2 linked regions of the Homo sapiens genome follow. The protein of the gene in region 2 binds, or shares a complex with, the protein of the main gene of each other region. Each region holds a gene or a part of one and is shown on either strand. Other genes may lie near its edges.

Region 1 (7,409 bases), on a different chromosome or scaffold from region 2:
AGGCGAGCACGACCTCAGCGAGCACGACGGGGATGAGCAGAGCCGGCGGGTGGCGCAGGTCATCATCCCCAGCACGTACGTCCCGGGCACCACCAACCACGACATCGCGCTGCTCCGCCTGCACCAGCCCGTGGTCCTCACTGACCATGTGGTGCCCCTCTGCCTGCCCGAACGGACGTTCTCTGAGAGGACGCTGGCCTTCGTGCGCTTCTCATTGGTCAGCGGCTGGGGCCAGCTGCTGGACCGTGGCGCCACGGCCCTGGAGCTCATGGTCCTCAACGTGCCCCGGCTGATGACCCAGGACTGCCTGCAGCAGTCACGGAAGGTGGGAGACTCCCCAAATATCACGGAGTACATGTTCTGTGCCGGCTACTCGGATGGCAGCAAGGACTCCTGCAAGGGGGACAGTGGAGGCCCACATGCCACCCACTACCGGGGCACGTGGTACCTGACGGGCATCGTCAGCTGGGGCCAGGGCTGCGCAACCGTGGGCCACTTTGGGGTGTACACCAGGGTCTCCCAGTACATCGAGTGGCTGCAAAAGCTCATGCGCTCAGAGCCACGCCCAGGAGTCCTCCTGCGAGCCCCATTTCCCTAGCCCAGCAGCCCTGGCCTGTGGAGAGAAAGCCAAGGCTGCGTCGAACTGTCCTGGCACCAAATCCCATATATTCTTCTGCAGTTAATGGGGTAGAGGAGGGCATGGGAGGGAGGGAGAGGTGGGGAGGGAGACAGAGACAGAAACAGAGAGAGACAGAGACAGAGAGAGACTGAGGGAGAGACTCTGAGGACATGGAGAGAGACTCAAAGAGACTCCAAGATTCAAAGAGACTAATAGAGACACAGAGATGGAATAGAAAAGATGAGAGGCAGAGGCAGACAGGCGCTGGACAGAGGGGCAGGGGAGTGCCAAGGTTGTCCTGGAGGCAGACAGCCCAGCTGAGCCTCCTTACCTCCCTTCAGCCAAGCCCACCTGCACGTGATCTGCTGGCCTCAGGCTGCTGCTCTGCCTTCATTGCTGGAGACAGTAGAGGCATGAACACACATGGATGCACACACACACACGCCAATGCACACACACAGAGATATGCACACACACGGATGCACACACAGATGGTCACACAGAGATACGCAAACACACCGATGCACACGCACATAGAGATATGCACACACAGATGCACACACAGATATACACATGGATGCACGCACATGCCAATGCACGCACACATCAGTGCACACGGATGCACAGAGATATGCACACACCGATGTGCGCACACACAGATATGCACACACATGGATGAGCACACACACACCAATGCGCACACACACCGATGTACACACACAGATGCACACACAGATGCACACACACCGATGCTGACTCCATGTGTGCTGTCCTCTGAAGGCGGTTGTTTAGCTCTCACTTTTCTGGTTCTTATCCATTATCATCTTCACTTCAGACAATTCAGAAGCATCACCATGCATGGTGGCGAATGCCCCCAAACTCTCCCCCAAATGTATTTCTCCCTTCGCTGGGTGCCGGGCTGCACAGACTATTCCCCACCTGCTTCCCAGCTTCACAATAAACGGCTGCGTCTCCTCCGCACACCTGTGGTGCCTGCCACCCACTGGGTTGCCCATGATTCATTTTTGGAGCCCCCGGTGCTCATCCTCTGAGATGCTCTTTTCTTTCACAATTTTCAACATCACTGAAATGAACCCTCACATGGAAGCTATTTTTTAAAAACAAAAGCTGTTTGATAGATGTTTGAGGCTGTAGCTCCCAGGATCCTGTGGAATTGGATGTTCTCTCCCTGCCACAGCCCTTGTCAATGATATTTCACAGAGACCCTGGGAGCACCTGCTCAAGAGTCAGGGACACACGCATCACTAAATGCAAGTTCCCAGGCCCTGGCTGCAGTGGGAGGACCTGGCAAGCTGCACTCTTGCTGAGTCCCCAGGGTGGTGGAAGAAGAATGAGAAACACATGAACAGAGAAATGGGGAGGTGACAAACAGTGCCCCCACTCAGACTCCGGCAAGCACGGCTCAGAGAGTGGACTCGATGCCATCCCTGCAGGGCCGTCCTGGGCACCACTGGCACTCACAGCAGCAAGGTGGGCACCATTGGCACTCACAGCAGCAAGGCAGGCACCAGCAACCCACCTCGGGGGCACTCAGGCATCATCTACTTCAGAGCAGACAGGGTCTATGAACTACAGCCGTGGGCTGCTTCCAAGGCACCCTGCTCTTGTAAATAAAGTTTTATGGGAACACACCCATATTAGTGTCCATGGAGTGGCCGTGGCAGAGACGTCCAGCCGGACAGACCAGCTGACCCGCCAAGCCCAGCATGGTTAGTGTCAGGACCTCTGCTGAAGATGCTTGCTGACCCTGGCCAGACCCCGGTTCCTAATGCCCCCTAAACGGGACGGGAGCCAGTGGCGGGCCCTGATCCAGGTCAGAGCTGGCTCTGCTTTCTCTTTTGTCCGAGTGACCATGCCTCAGTTTCCTCATGTGTAAAACAGGAGCCCACCGTGATGCTTATGGTGGGATGAGATCAGCATGGATGGAACAAGGCCCTGGAAGGGCCCATGCCATGGTCATCGACAGCAAAGCCACTCTGCAGACAGATGCTTCAGTGAATTGGTAGAAAATTCTGCAACCAGAATGCCCGGGGCTCCTGAGGGCCTAAGCCCAGCCCAGGGTTCTGGAAGCCACTCTGACTTCTTGGGAGTGGAAGTTGGCAGGACTCTTCCTGGGAAGAAGCGGAGGGTGGGGATGAGAGGACAGTTCAGGAGCCCACCCAGACCCACAGGAGGAAACTAGGGGAGTCATGCGGGGTCCTGGTGGAGCGCCAGCCTCCCTTCCTGCCAATGGGAAATGCAGGCGCCCACCTCATGGTGCTGCCGGAGGAGGGGGCCCGGGACTCCCCAGAGGCTTCGCTGAAGGGCCTGGGCGCCCCCAAAGGCTACATGTTTCATATGGGACGTGCCACCTGCCACGGCTCAGCTCCAGCTTTCTGTGAGTGGCGAGATAGAATACGGGGAGGCCACTGGCCATGGGCCTGGGACAGGGTGGGATGAGGCGGCAGGCTTGGGCCACCAAAGCCAGCATCGCCACCCAGCATTGATGACAAAGACTGCGTGTCTGCCATGAGCATCCTGCTGTTGGTGCACACACCGCATTGGTCTCTCCATACAAACATGCCTAGAGGCGATGTCAGAGGGTGGAGACCAGGAGAGGCAGGAGTCAGACATCTGGTGCCACCAGGAAGGCCCTTCTCAGAGGACCAGGCTGTGCGTGGTGCCCGCCGTGGGAGGCCAGCCTGGCGTTGGCATCCAGCATCATCAGTTTGTGCAGTCGGGTGGGGCTCAGTGAGTGCCTCCTGTGTGCCAGGCACAATGACGCACAATGTGTGCACACCAGGCTCATGTGCAGGTGGCTGCGAGACAGGGCGACCCATCAAGGCAGATGCACCATGAGGCAGTGGCCAGTGCTGTGGGTGTTAGGGGCATTGCTCCCCGGCCACTACGGCATAGCAGGCAGTGATCGCCACACTGGCCAAGCTTTAGACCATTTATTCCAGAGACCCCAGAGGCAAAAAGCCCGGCTGCACCTCCCAGTGACTCCCACAGCCATTGAGCAGAGACACTCAGGACCTTGTGATGGGAGGTTTCTGCACTGGAGAACGAGCCCAGAAGCCCTCTCAGCCTCGGAACAGTGTGGCCAGTGGTGGGCAGGTCAGGAGGGGCTTCAGACACAGCCTGTCCCTCCAGATGGTCACGGGAAGGTCACTCCCCACAGAAGTACGTTTTGGGGCCATGCGGGCACAGAAGGTTTGGGGGTGGGTGGGGCAGGTGCCAGCCTGGCCTGTGGGAGGCCATGGTGCAGATGCCAAGCCCCCCCCGTGACATGAGACCACCTGATACCACCCAGAGAGTGGCTGTGAGCGGAAGGGCCCGCCCAGAAACAAGCAGGGCCTTGGGGCAGAAGTCCTGGGCTCAGATCCCACGCTCACTGCCAGCGGCCTCGGCTCAGGCTTCTGCGCTCTCTAAACTTAGTTTTCTCTTCTGGAAAAATGATGGGGAAAATGATATTTGTATGTGAGGACTGAGAGTTAAATGTAAACATCTGGAAACTACAAAATGAGCACGAAATGATGTTTTTATTCTTAGAACAGAAAGTCCCCACACCCGCGGCCCTGGTGACTGATGAGGATGAGGTTCTGCGGGGCCTCTCTGGCCGCCCAGCTCTGCCTGGGGAAGGTGGGGCCAGAGTGGATGTGTTCCCAGCGTGGTCACTCCCCTGCCTCGCCAGCAGGTCTCGGCTCCAATCAGGAGGCCTAAGCCAAGTGATAAGCAGCCAGACAACAGCCATCCCAGCTGGGGCGTGGACTTTGCTCCAGCAGCCTGTCCCAGTGAGGACAGGGACACAGTACTCGGCCACACCATGGGGCGCCCACTGCACCTCGTCCTGCTCAGTGCCTCCCTGGCTGGCCTCCTGCTGCTCGGGGAAAGTCGTAAGTGCCCCTCGCCCTTCAGACCCAAAAGCAGCGCCAGGGAGCAGGGAGGGGCGGCAGTTGGGGAAACCCTCTCATCTCTGCAGCCTGGACGGTGGGTGCCTTGAGTGCTGCCAGAGGCTGGGCTCGGATGGCTGGGCTTGGCCTTTCCAGCCAACGGCATCCTCAAGGCCAGCTGTGGCTCCCTGGGGCTGAGAGTCAGACGGGCGGATCAGAGGTCACAGAGACAAAAACACAAGGACAGAGTCAGAGAGAGAAAGGGAGAGGGAAGGAGAAACGGAGACACAGTGAGATGGGAGGCCAAGAGGCAGAGACAGAGGTAGAAAGACGGAGACAGAGAGAGAGGGAGGGGTTGGGGCAGGCAGAGACAGGACAGTTAGCCATCTGCCACCACAGGGAGGCACAGGACGAGGGGCACAGCAGAGGAGCTCCCAGGGAGGAGGAGGCTGAGCCGAGCCAGTGCCACCACTCTCGGACTGGCTCCGTCGGGGAAGGAGCTGCCTAATGCACAGCTGGACAGGTGGGGGCAGCAGGGCTGTCCAGGACCCCCGGGTCTGTCCAAAAGCAGAGGCCCAGACAGGACAGAAGCCAGGCAAGCCTGGGGACAGCGGAGGAAGAGGAGGCCCCTCTGGTGGGGACACGAGAGACAGGGACCCTAGACTTGTTTGCATCCTGGACAAAGTGGACAGGCAGGGGCACCAAGGGGACCCAGGCCTGGGAAGGGAATGTGTGAGGGAGAGACGGAGCAGGGGGAGACCCTCGTGGGGTGGAAAGGGGAGACCCCTGGGAAGGCTGAGTGGATCCTCAGTGCATCACTGACCTAAACGGCCCCTCCGCCTGGTGACTTGGAGCTCCAGTCACATCACACGGGGGTCTTCTCCATCCCACCCTCAACCCCCTGCCCTCCCCAGCCTCTGTCCCCTGAGCCACATCTTCCTGTCTCCCACGCGGAACGGGACTCCCGTCTTCATGGGGTACTGTGTGGCTCCAACTCGCCCAGCCTTCTTCCTCCCCCTCAGGCCACACTGCCCCCTGCAGGAGCCCACTGTGATGCTTGTGGTGGGATGAGATCAGCGTGGGTGGAACAAGGCCCTGGAAGGACCCATGCCATCATCATCGACAGCAAAGCTACTCTGCAAACAGACAGATGCTTCCGCGAATTGGTAGAAAATTCTGCAGCCGGAATGCTCTAGGATCCTGAGGCCCTAAGCCCGGCCCGGGGCTCCCGAGGCCCTAAGCCCGGCCCGGGACTCTGGAAGCTGCTCTGGCTTATTGGGAATGGAAGTTGGCAGGACTCCTCTTCCTGGGAAGAAGCAGAGGGTGGGGATGAGAAGACAGGCCAGGAGCCCACCCAGACCCACAGGAGGAAACTAGGGGAGTTATGCAGAGTCCTGGTGGAGCGCCAGCTTCCCTTCCTGCCAATGGGAAATGCAGGCGCCCACCTCGCGGACCTCTGGGTCCACAGGGTATTGGCACCCTTAGCTGTGTGATGCGGGCCTGGCTCATAACCATGGCCTGTGGTGTCCCCGGGGGCCGGCCTGGACCCTGGGTGGACATGGCCAGCCCCGGAGAGCCAGGGCCAGGCCATCTCTCTCCCCTACTCTGCCTCAGAGGCCTCGGCAGCTGCACTGTGGGGTGGGTGGGGCTGAACACAGGTCCCAGAAGGTCCCACTCAGGACCCTGCTGTGCACACTTTTGATTTTAATAAAATCAGAATGCGCACAGCATCTGCAGTCTAGCCTTTAAACGAGCACAGCTGTCCTGGCAGTCACGGAAGTTCTTCTGGGGCGGTGGGACCTCAGCATTCCTTTGCTGGTACTGCTACAAGAAAGGACAATGGACCAAGTAGCTTAAAGCAACAGAAACATTTCTCCCACAGCTCTGGAGGCTGGAAGTTCAAAATCAAGGCGTCAGCGGGGCTGGTTCCTCCAGAGGCTGGGAGAGAGTCTGCTCTAGGCCTGTTTCCTGGCCTCGGGGTGCCAGCGGCCTCACAGCCCATGGCTTGTGGGAGCATTGCTCCCATCGCTGCCTCCATCATCGCATGGGGTTCTCACCATGGCTGTTTTTCTGTCTTCTTTTCTCTCAGAAGGACACCAGTCATTGGATTTAGGGCTCACTCTACTCCCATAAAATGTCTTCCTAACTAAATACATCACAAAAGTTCTATTTCCAATTAAGGTCAGGTTCTGAGGTTCTGGGAAAGACATGAATTTGGAGGGACATTATTCAGCCCTGTCCTGCCACCTGTGAGTGTTTTCTGCAATCCAACTTTTTATTTTAATAAAATCAGAATACGCAGAGCACCTGCAGTGCCAGCCTTTAAACTACTGCTGTTGTACTGGCAATCATTAAAGCTACGTGGCTTCAGTTTCAATCTTTACATTCAACAAGTTTAAACCCATTCTTCATGAGTTTGGACCTTACTGACTGAAAATTTTGCTTGCTGGTAAAACTTGCTCAAATGCAGTTGCTGACTGTGGAATTCACTGATGTTGCCAAAACAACAAACACAACTGTGTGCTCGAGGATTGCAATGCTCCCAACAGCTTCTGAAGAAACAAACCACACGACAAATGTCTACCAATCTGGATGCTCCATATCAGAGTTCTAGAGTGTTCCATTAATTTCTTGAGACAAGTGCCTAAAAACCTTGTTTTAATTTCGTTTTGCCAAAATCCCATTTTACTCACATCAGAAAGTGTGGCCACGTGGCCCAGACCCGGCCTGCTCAGTCTGACTGAAGCGTTGATGCGACTCAGCCATAACAGATAGCAGAAGCGCCCAGATTCAGTCCAGAGGGCTGAGCCAGGCACGCCATCTTTCCTTCATTCCCTCAACACATATTGGTTAAGTTCCGGCCGTGCTAGGCACGGGCATACAGCTGTGACCAAACA
Region 2 (7,549 bases):
ATCTGTGATATAAATTCCCCAAATTCCAGCTTCCAAACATCACTTTTCAGCAAAAAAACCACCAAGATAAAGTTTGGCCAGGAAAAAAAAAAGAAATCACCTTTTCCCTAAAATGCATGTTTCAAATGACTGGGTTCTTTTTTCCCCATACGTTTACACAACAACTTAAGAAATAATAATGTTTAATGTGACCAATGCCGTCATTTTCTGACTCTCAATGTAAGACATATCAAAAAACGTACTATTTGAACACATATACTTCTTCTCAAACTAAAATTTCAAATAGTGTTTCAAATAGAATTTTTGTCAAGGGAAATGTAATTGGTGATAGGACAAAAGCATAGTTTTCTCCAATAATTAAATGTAGTACTCATGGAGACAGCCAGAAGAAAACTTGATAATCTAGTTCAACTCCAATTACATACTAGAGAACCTAAAATTCAAGCATGGCAAAATGAATAACAAAACCTGGGTTCTTAGTCTCGGTTCTTCCAGTAATTAGTTGAGTTTCCATGAACTAAACAACCTTCAATGAACTCGGCAACTTCTCTGGGCATTAATTTCCTCATCTGTATGATTTGAGCAGGAAACTAAATGGGTCTCACAGTATGACACTGCTAAAAAGTCTTTGATTTTCCCAGTAGAAGGAAATGGTTCGCACAACGTCCGTACTTTAATGACCAGGTAAACAGCATTAAAAGAAAAGCCGGCTTTATCTTTCGAGTACAGCCTACTATACACGACACTGTACTTTAACTGTTTAGGGTGATGGAAGGAAATGGTTTCCATACCCAGTGCCTTCTATCTGGCACACAGTAAGAACTCAGTATCTACTGGAGAAAAAAAAGAAAAGGTTGCGGATATGCGGATAAAGAATACTCATTACGTCACATGCAGGGTTCCAATATCAACTTTTGTTTTCGTATCACGGGCATTCCTCCCTTTTACATATTCTTTTACATACTATGTCTGTTTCATGACTATTAGAGAATCAACGTGTAAAATGCTTAAAAGGCTGTAGATCCTCAAATATGGGCAGAGTTTGTTCTAAAATGCCTGACTATGAAAGTCAGGAGAAGTTAATTTAAGTTACTGCATTTTCTAAACCTATCTCTTGCCTGTTAAAATGCTTCAAATAGTTATGGGGTAGGTCTAGAAACGTGAGACACATTTCCCAGTATTAGTTCTCACCAATAAGAGGCCATATAAAGTGACTTCCCTCAGATGCAATCAGCCCTCTCCTCATAAACACAAAAATGAAATGGAACGAAGACATGCTTCTCTGGCAAATAGCTACAGAAACCTTTTGAAAACAACTAACATTAAAGTTGTTCATCAGCTTTCTCTGCTTAGTGCCCTTAGAGGCACAATGAGAAGAACCCATTCTCATTTAGGGATGTTAAAAAAGAGTAGCCTCAGTCGGCTGAGGCAATTAATCTATCCCTCTGCAGGTTTAAGTAAGTGACATTTAAGAACAAGTGAAAAAGGAACACAAACTTTCACTTATGTCAAAGGTGAATTAATATGCTTGCATTGAACTTCAAACTGTGTCTACATCTTTACTTTTAGAATACAAATATTAGTCCTTAGAATGTAAATTTGTGCAATGGATTTAATGCACTACTTTCCCCATTTAAATCCATTCATTCATTCACTACTCAAATATTTATTGAGCACCTATTATGGGAAAGGAACATTCTAGGAGCTGGGGATACAGAGAGAATGAGCCAAAGACAACACACATGAAAGTAATAAGACAAGTTCAGATAGTGACAAGTGCTATAAAGAAAATACTTCTTTGACTATAGCTGATTCATTTTCTTGGTATATTATGAATGCATGATCTGAAGATCTCAGAAAACAAAGAGTCTAAATCACTTCAAGTGAAGTTTACAGCTCACATTCCATACACATGTGTATTGCAGTTTCAATATCCCAAATATGAGTCAAAGGAAGTATAAAAGAAACCAAGAATCACTGAAATATGAGACGAAACAGATTTAAAAATCTGTTCTCTCTGCTGGATATGCACACGGACGAGGAGAAAGGTGAATATCCAATCGATTTTTATTTTAAGTAAAAGTGGTAAAAATACAGACGCTCGTTCAGTATTTCATGACATTCTATTTTAAAGGCAACTGCAACGCATATTAAGAAAGCTACATACAAGCAAAAATATTTAAAATAATTTCTGAGAGCATTCAAATCACTCCCAACTTCTTCCCTCCCCCTGCCCCCCGGCGCCCCCATTTTCACCTCCTTTGAGTTGCTCTGAAACGCTGCTGGTTAGGCAGGAACTCACTTTCCCTGACTTTGGCTCATTTTCAACTCCCCAAAACACGCAAGGCAAACGATAAATTGTTCTCTTACTCCCATGTTCAATTCCACGGAAAGCCAAGAAACAGTCGTTCAGCAACCTCTGTCTCGGCTGCGCCCTGCAGGTGAAGGAACCGCTGGGAAGGGGCTCCCCGAGACTAGCATCCCGAGGGCTCGGACCCCGGTCCGCCTGGCCCCTCGCCCGCCCGCCAGGCCCGCCGAATGCGGCCTCCGCCCCGCGCGCCTAAAGGAGGAGCGTCGCGGGGGATGGAGGCGGCGCGCGGTGGGACCTGGGGAGATGCACCCGCAGCGTCCGCCGCGCCAGCCGGCTCCCTACCCCGAGGCGAGGCCCCAGATCCCCGCCCCGCAGGGCCTCTGACCTCTCCGGGCCCCGGGGCTGCTGCTGCCCGCACTCGTGCTACCGCTGCCGGAGCCGCTGCTGCTGCTGTTGCCGCTGCTCTTGGCATTCTTACGCTGGGCCATTGCACGGTCCGCGGGGGCTGGTGAGGGCTGGCGGACCTCCTTCAGTGCGCGGGGGTACACACGCGACGCGGGAACCGCTGGCGGCGGCGGGCCGCTGGAGCGGGTTCGGGCCGCTGCTCCTGCAGCAGACCCTGTGCCTCAGCACCGCCTGCAGCACCTGGGAAGACTTCACCCGCCTGCCGGCTGCGCGCGCCCGGCCTCGCGTGTACGAACCTGTGACTCCCTCCCGGGGCGAGAGCGCGCGGCTCGCCGCCCGACGGCCACGCCCCTTCCCGGCCTCGCCCCGCCCCCGGAAGGCTGAGTGACGGCGCCTGGGACCCAATCGCAAGGGCCCTTACGAGGCGGCGGTACCCTGCCGCGCTCCCCGCCCCTGCTCACTTAGGGCTGTTCGGGCGCTACGCAGCTGCCTGTGAGCGCGAGCCTCTTTCGGCTTTCCAGTTTGTCTCGGTCCTTTGGAACGTGGCAAACGTGGAAGCCGAGAGGGCTCTCGCGAGCGTTGGCAGACCCCGCTCCATAGGGATGGGACAGGGCGCGGTGCGGAATAGGTGGACACGTGGGCCGCCCGTGGGCGGAGTGCGCCGCTTCTAGGCCTTTCACTGTGGATTTTGTCCCCTTTCCGTATACAAGGAAAGGAAGGAGTGCAGTCTCGCTTCTTGCGAAAGAGATCCCTATTTCTTGTCCTGATTAATACTAAGACATTTCTGGAATGGTGATATTAGGACTAGTTCAATGCTTAAACCGTAGTAGTTCATCCATTTGGTGCTGAAGCAGGAATTTAGTTCGTTTGTGCCATCAGTATTTTCAGATACTCTTAGTTAAGGAATGAAAATGCAAATGTGACACAAAAAGTTCATTTTCTTACCCTGGATGGCACCCTCTGTCTGAAATCCCTGGCTGCTTTGCTAACGCCTGGGCCTGTGCTGCCTGAGAATTCCCAACAGAGTATTAAAATGTCTTGGCACGTGGTTGAACCAGACAAGGACTTGAGATCAGCGACGTCTTTATCATCTTTGTGTCACCATTGCTAACACCATGCCCAATGTGTAACAGGCAAGCAAGAAATGCTTAGTGATTTGATACATTTCTGTCAATTGCTGAACCCACAGCTCTTGATCATGTTTCGTAGCAACCCCTGGGAGTGTCTCAGGAGGGCTCAGGGACCAGAGAGAGCAGTTGCATTGTGGCATCTGGTTTCATTCCTCTTTTCCAGCCCCACAAACCCACCCACCCGCGCCTTCAGAAGCACTCCCGCCTCCCCCCGGCCCCATGCCTTTTCACCTGTGGATGGTTGGATGCTGCTTGACCCTGCCCTGATGATGCACAGAAACCCCCCAAAGGTCATGTTGCAGAATAAAGAGAATGCCTTTCTTTACCTTTTGTCAAATAGTGTTAGGCTATTATCAAGAGACGGTGGGAGGGGAGAGTTCACAGAGTTTTTATTGAAGTAGCTCTCTCAGCTTTTATCTTGTGGCATCTCCTTCTGCATCCATATATCCTTTCTCCCATTCAGGGCCCCCTTACAACCCTCTATTATATTATCTCAATGAAGGAGGTGGAGAACTGGATTAAGAAATAAATCTGAGTGATGGTGCTTCATATAAAATAAAAATGAGAGCTAAATTTCAAAACACAATGCTCTAGCCACCCCCCACCCCCCACACCAAAGATATTTTTACCCTTAAATTCTCACAAAACCCTGTAGTCATATCAATTTTTTAAAGAAATTAGATACTGGAAGCTCAGAGAGATAAAACAAAGTAGGGTCACTGTATTAGTCCGTTTTCACACTGCAGATAAAGACATATCCCAGACTGGAAAGAAAAAGGGGTTTAATTGGAGTTACAGTTCCACATGGCTGGGGAGGCCTCAGAATCATGGCAGGAGGTGAAAGGCACTTCTTACATGGAGGTGGCAAGAGAAAATGAGGAAGAAGTAAAAGCAGAAACCCCCAATAAACCCATTAGGTTTCATGAGAATTAATTCACTATCACGAGAATAGCACAGGAAAGACCGGCCCCCATGATTCAATTACCTCCCTCTGGGTTCTTCCCAAAACACATGGGAATTCTGAGAGATACAATTTGATGTTGAGATTTGAATGGGATCACAGCCAAACTATATCATTCTGCCCCAGTCCCTCCAAATTTCATGCCCTCACATTTCAGAACCAATCATGTTTTCCCAACAGTCCCCCAAAGCCTTAACTCATTTCAGCATTAACCCAAAAGTCCACAGTCCAAAGTCTCATCTGAGACAAGGCAAGTCCCTTCTACCTAAGAGCCTGTAAAATCAAAAGTAAGCTAGTTACTTCTTAGATACAATGAGGGTACAGGTATTGGGTAAATACAGCCATTTCAAATGGGAGAAATTGGCCAAAACAGCGGGGTTACAGGGCCCATGCAAGTCTGAATTCGAGTGGGGCAGTCAAATTTTAAAGCTCCAGAATTATCTCCTTTGACTCCAGGTCTCATATCCAGGTCACTCTGATGCAAGAGGTGGGTTCCCATGGTTTTGGGCAGCTGCATCCCTGTGGCTTTGCAGGGTACAGCCTCCCTCCCAGCTGCTTTCACGGGCTGATATTGAGTGTCTGCGGCTTTTCCAGGTGCACAGTGCAAGCTGTCAGTGGATCTACCATTCTGGGGTCTAGAGGATGGTAGCAGTCTTCTCACAGCTCCACTAGGCAGTGACCCAGTATGGACTCTGTGTGGGGGCTCTGACCCCACATTTCCCTTCTGCACTGCCCTAGCAGAGGTTCTCCATGAGGGCCCTGTCCCTGCAGCAAACTTTTGCCTGGGCATCCAGGCGTTTCCATACATCTTCTGAAATCTAGGCGGAGGTTCCCAAACCTCAATTCTTGACTTCTGTGCACCTATAGGCTCAACACCACGTGGAAGTTGCCAAGGCTTGGAGCTTCCACCTTCTGAAGCCACAGTCTGAGCTGTACGTTGGAGCCTTTCAGCCACAGCTGGAGTGGCTGGGACAGTCACAAAGCTAGTAAGTGATAGAGGAGGGATGTGAACTTGGTTGGACTGGCTCCAGAGTCTATACTCCAAATTATTCCTCCTGGATAAGACATAGTTTTGAGTGGAGAAAGTCTCACCTGGCTCCCTTTTCGGTTAATGGATGTCTCCAGGAAGCCTCCTTGGTCCTACCTTCAAAGATAGGTCTGAAACCCAGTGGTAAGTGCTTATCAAAGCCTATCTTTTTAAGGAAATCAAATTTGTTTTATAGCTAACTCCAAAATGCCATTAAGTGATGCTTTGCTCCTGCATTTCCAGAAACTAAATCTGGTACCCCTGACAAGGTACATTGCTGTGTATCTTGGGCAATATCAGGCCAAAATAGAGGTTTTAGTAAATATGAATCACAGAAAGAAAGAGGCTACCTAGCGCTTTCTTGTATCCTGAGGAAACAACTATGATAACATTTATGTGCTCAGTATTATCGAATAAAACTTAAATCAGATGCCATCAGTTCTAGACACAGTTTCATTTCAGGGACTGAATTCCCTCAAGCTAAGTAACAGAACTATACATTTTATATCTGTCTGTACTTCCCATATTATGGGCATCAAAAAACGCAAAGCTTACTTAGGATTCATATATTTCTTTACAAAGGACATTTTCTCAGCATGGTTGTGAAAAAGACAAAGTATCTTAGTATCTTTTAAATTAAAGGAGAAGTCAAATGTCCCTTGTTAGCTTTTCCTCTTTTCTGTAATTTTCAAGCAAACTATGGGTGAAATAATGTTAAAAGGACCATAAAGACAAGACTTATCTAGGACAATTTATTAAAATACTAATTTAATAGAGCTTTTGAACTAGGTCAAATGTGTCTTTCAGGTATTTCCATAAACCTTCCACTGCCTTCAGTGGGATTTGCAAGTGAGAACTGGAGGACACGATTTGCCCTACTTCTTTTTTTTCCATTCTGATGACCCTTTACAACCTCCAGTCAAATTCCTTCCAAATTAATATTTCTGGACTTACTTATACCTACTATAGCATCGTTTTAAAAATTCCACTTTAACCTGCTTCCTAGAAAATGCCTCTCATTTTTATGCAATCTTCCTACTGTGAAGTTTTATTATTGCAAACTGGAACTGAGTATTTCCTCATCTTTATTTGCCATAGTAAGACCATAGTGGAAAACAATAAATTTCAACTGGTCATGATTCATTTATATGTTTTTCATATTATATTAGTGAAATTTGTTGCAACGAAAGGATATTGGTAAGTATAGGAGGATTTTGAAGGCATTCCCTACTCAGTGTTTTCAAAGCAATTATCCTCATATGAGTCATATCTCAACACGTAAATGAACTGTCATTTTCACCAAACAGCTTGACTTCAGATTATCTAGAAAAAATAAGCCTGACTAATATCTACATCATAAATAAATAGAATAAATTTATATGAGCAGAAGTGATTTTAAATCCAGTCTAAAATGGATTTGAGTTAGTACTATTGTGTTACGATATGGTAAAATGATCTGAAGTCACATTAGTTAAGAAACCTATCATTTCCTTTTTCCTTTCAATTCTTTAAATTTCCTATCAAGATTGGTACTTCTTAGAGCCAAAGTTCCTTTCTATCAAATAACATCTAAGTAAGTGCTATTGCCAGTTCTTGAGTTTTCTAGCACAGGGAAATGATGGAATTAACTGACTCTTCTTAAGTCTCAAACTTAATGCCAGAAAGAAACTTAAACATGGAGAAAAAGCCAAACATTAGAGAATAACAAGAAATTA

What was found. The genes of interacting proteins can lie anywhere in the genome.
Region 1: the proteins of ASPH (region 2) and F10 are in contact, whole or in part, in a crystal structure (PDB 6Q9F), measured with the Homo sapiens proteins. Residues at the interface, in NP_004309.2 of Homo sapiens: Ala389, Glu390, Arg393, Ser394, Asn395, Leu398, Gln431, Phe432, Leu433, Gly434, Met436, Arg437, Val462, Leu465, Leu466, Ile467, Gly468, His493, Phe496, Ala500, Arg526, Phe529, His530, Arg562, Ser563, Leu564, Tyr565, Asp616, Glu617, Leu619; in NP_000495.1 of Homo sapiens: Asn97, Gln98, Lys100, Cys101, Lys102, Asp103, Gly104, Leu105, Gly106, Glu107, Tyr108, Thr109, Cys110, Thr111, Leu113, Glu114, Gly115, Phe116.

The regions. Positions count from the first base shown.
Region 1 is NC_000013.11:113,118,411-113,125,819, forward strand, and holds the start of F10 (coagulation factor X isoform 1 preproprotein), read left to right. Parts: upstream 1-4,388; 5' UTR 4,389-4,445; coding exon 4,446-4,515; intron 4,516-7,409. Other genes in the region: F7 (coagulation factor VII), read left to right, coding at 3-598. UniProt on the Homo sapiens protein: Factor Xa is a vitamin K-dependent glycoprotein that converts prothrombin to thrombin in the presence of factor Va, calcium and phospholipid during blood clotting.
Region 2 is NC_000008.11:61,711,573-61,719,121, forward strand, and holds the start of ASPH (aspartyl/asparaginyl beta-hydroxylase), read right to left. Parts: upstream 3,021-7,549; 5' UTR 2,800-3,020; coding exon 2,697-2,799; intron 1-2,696.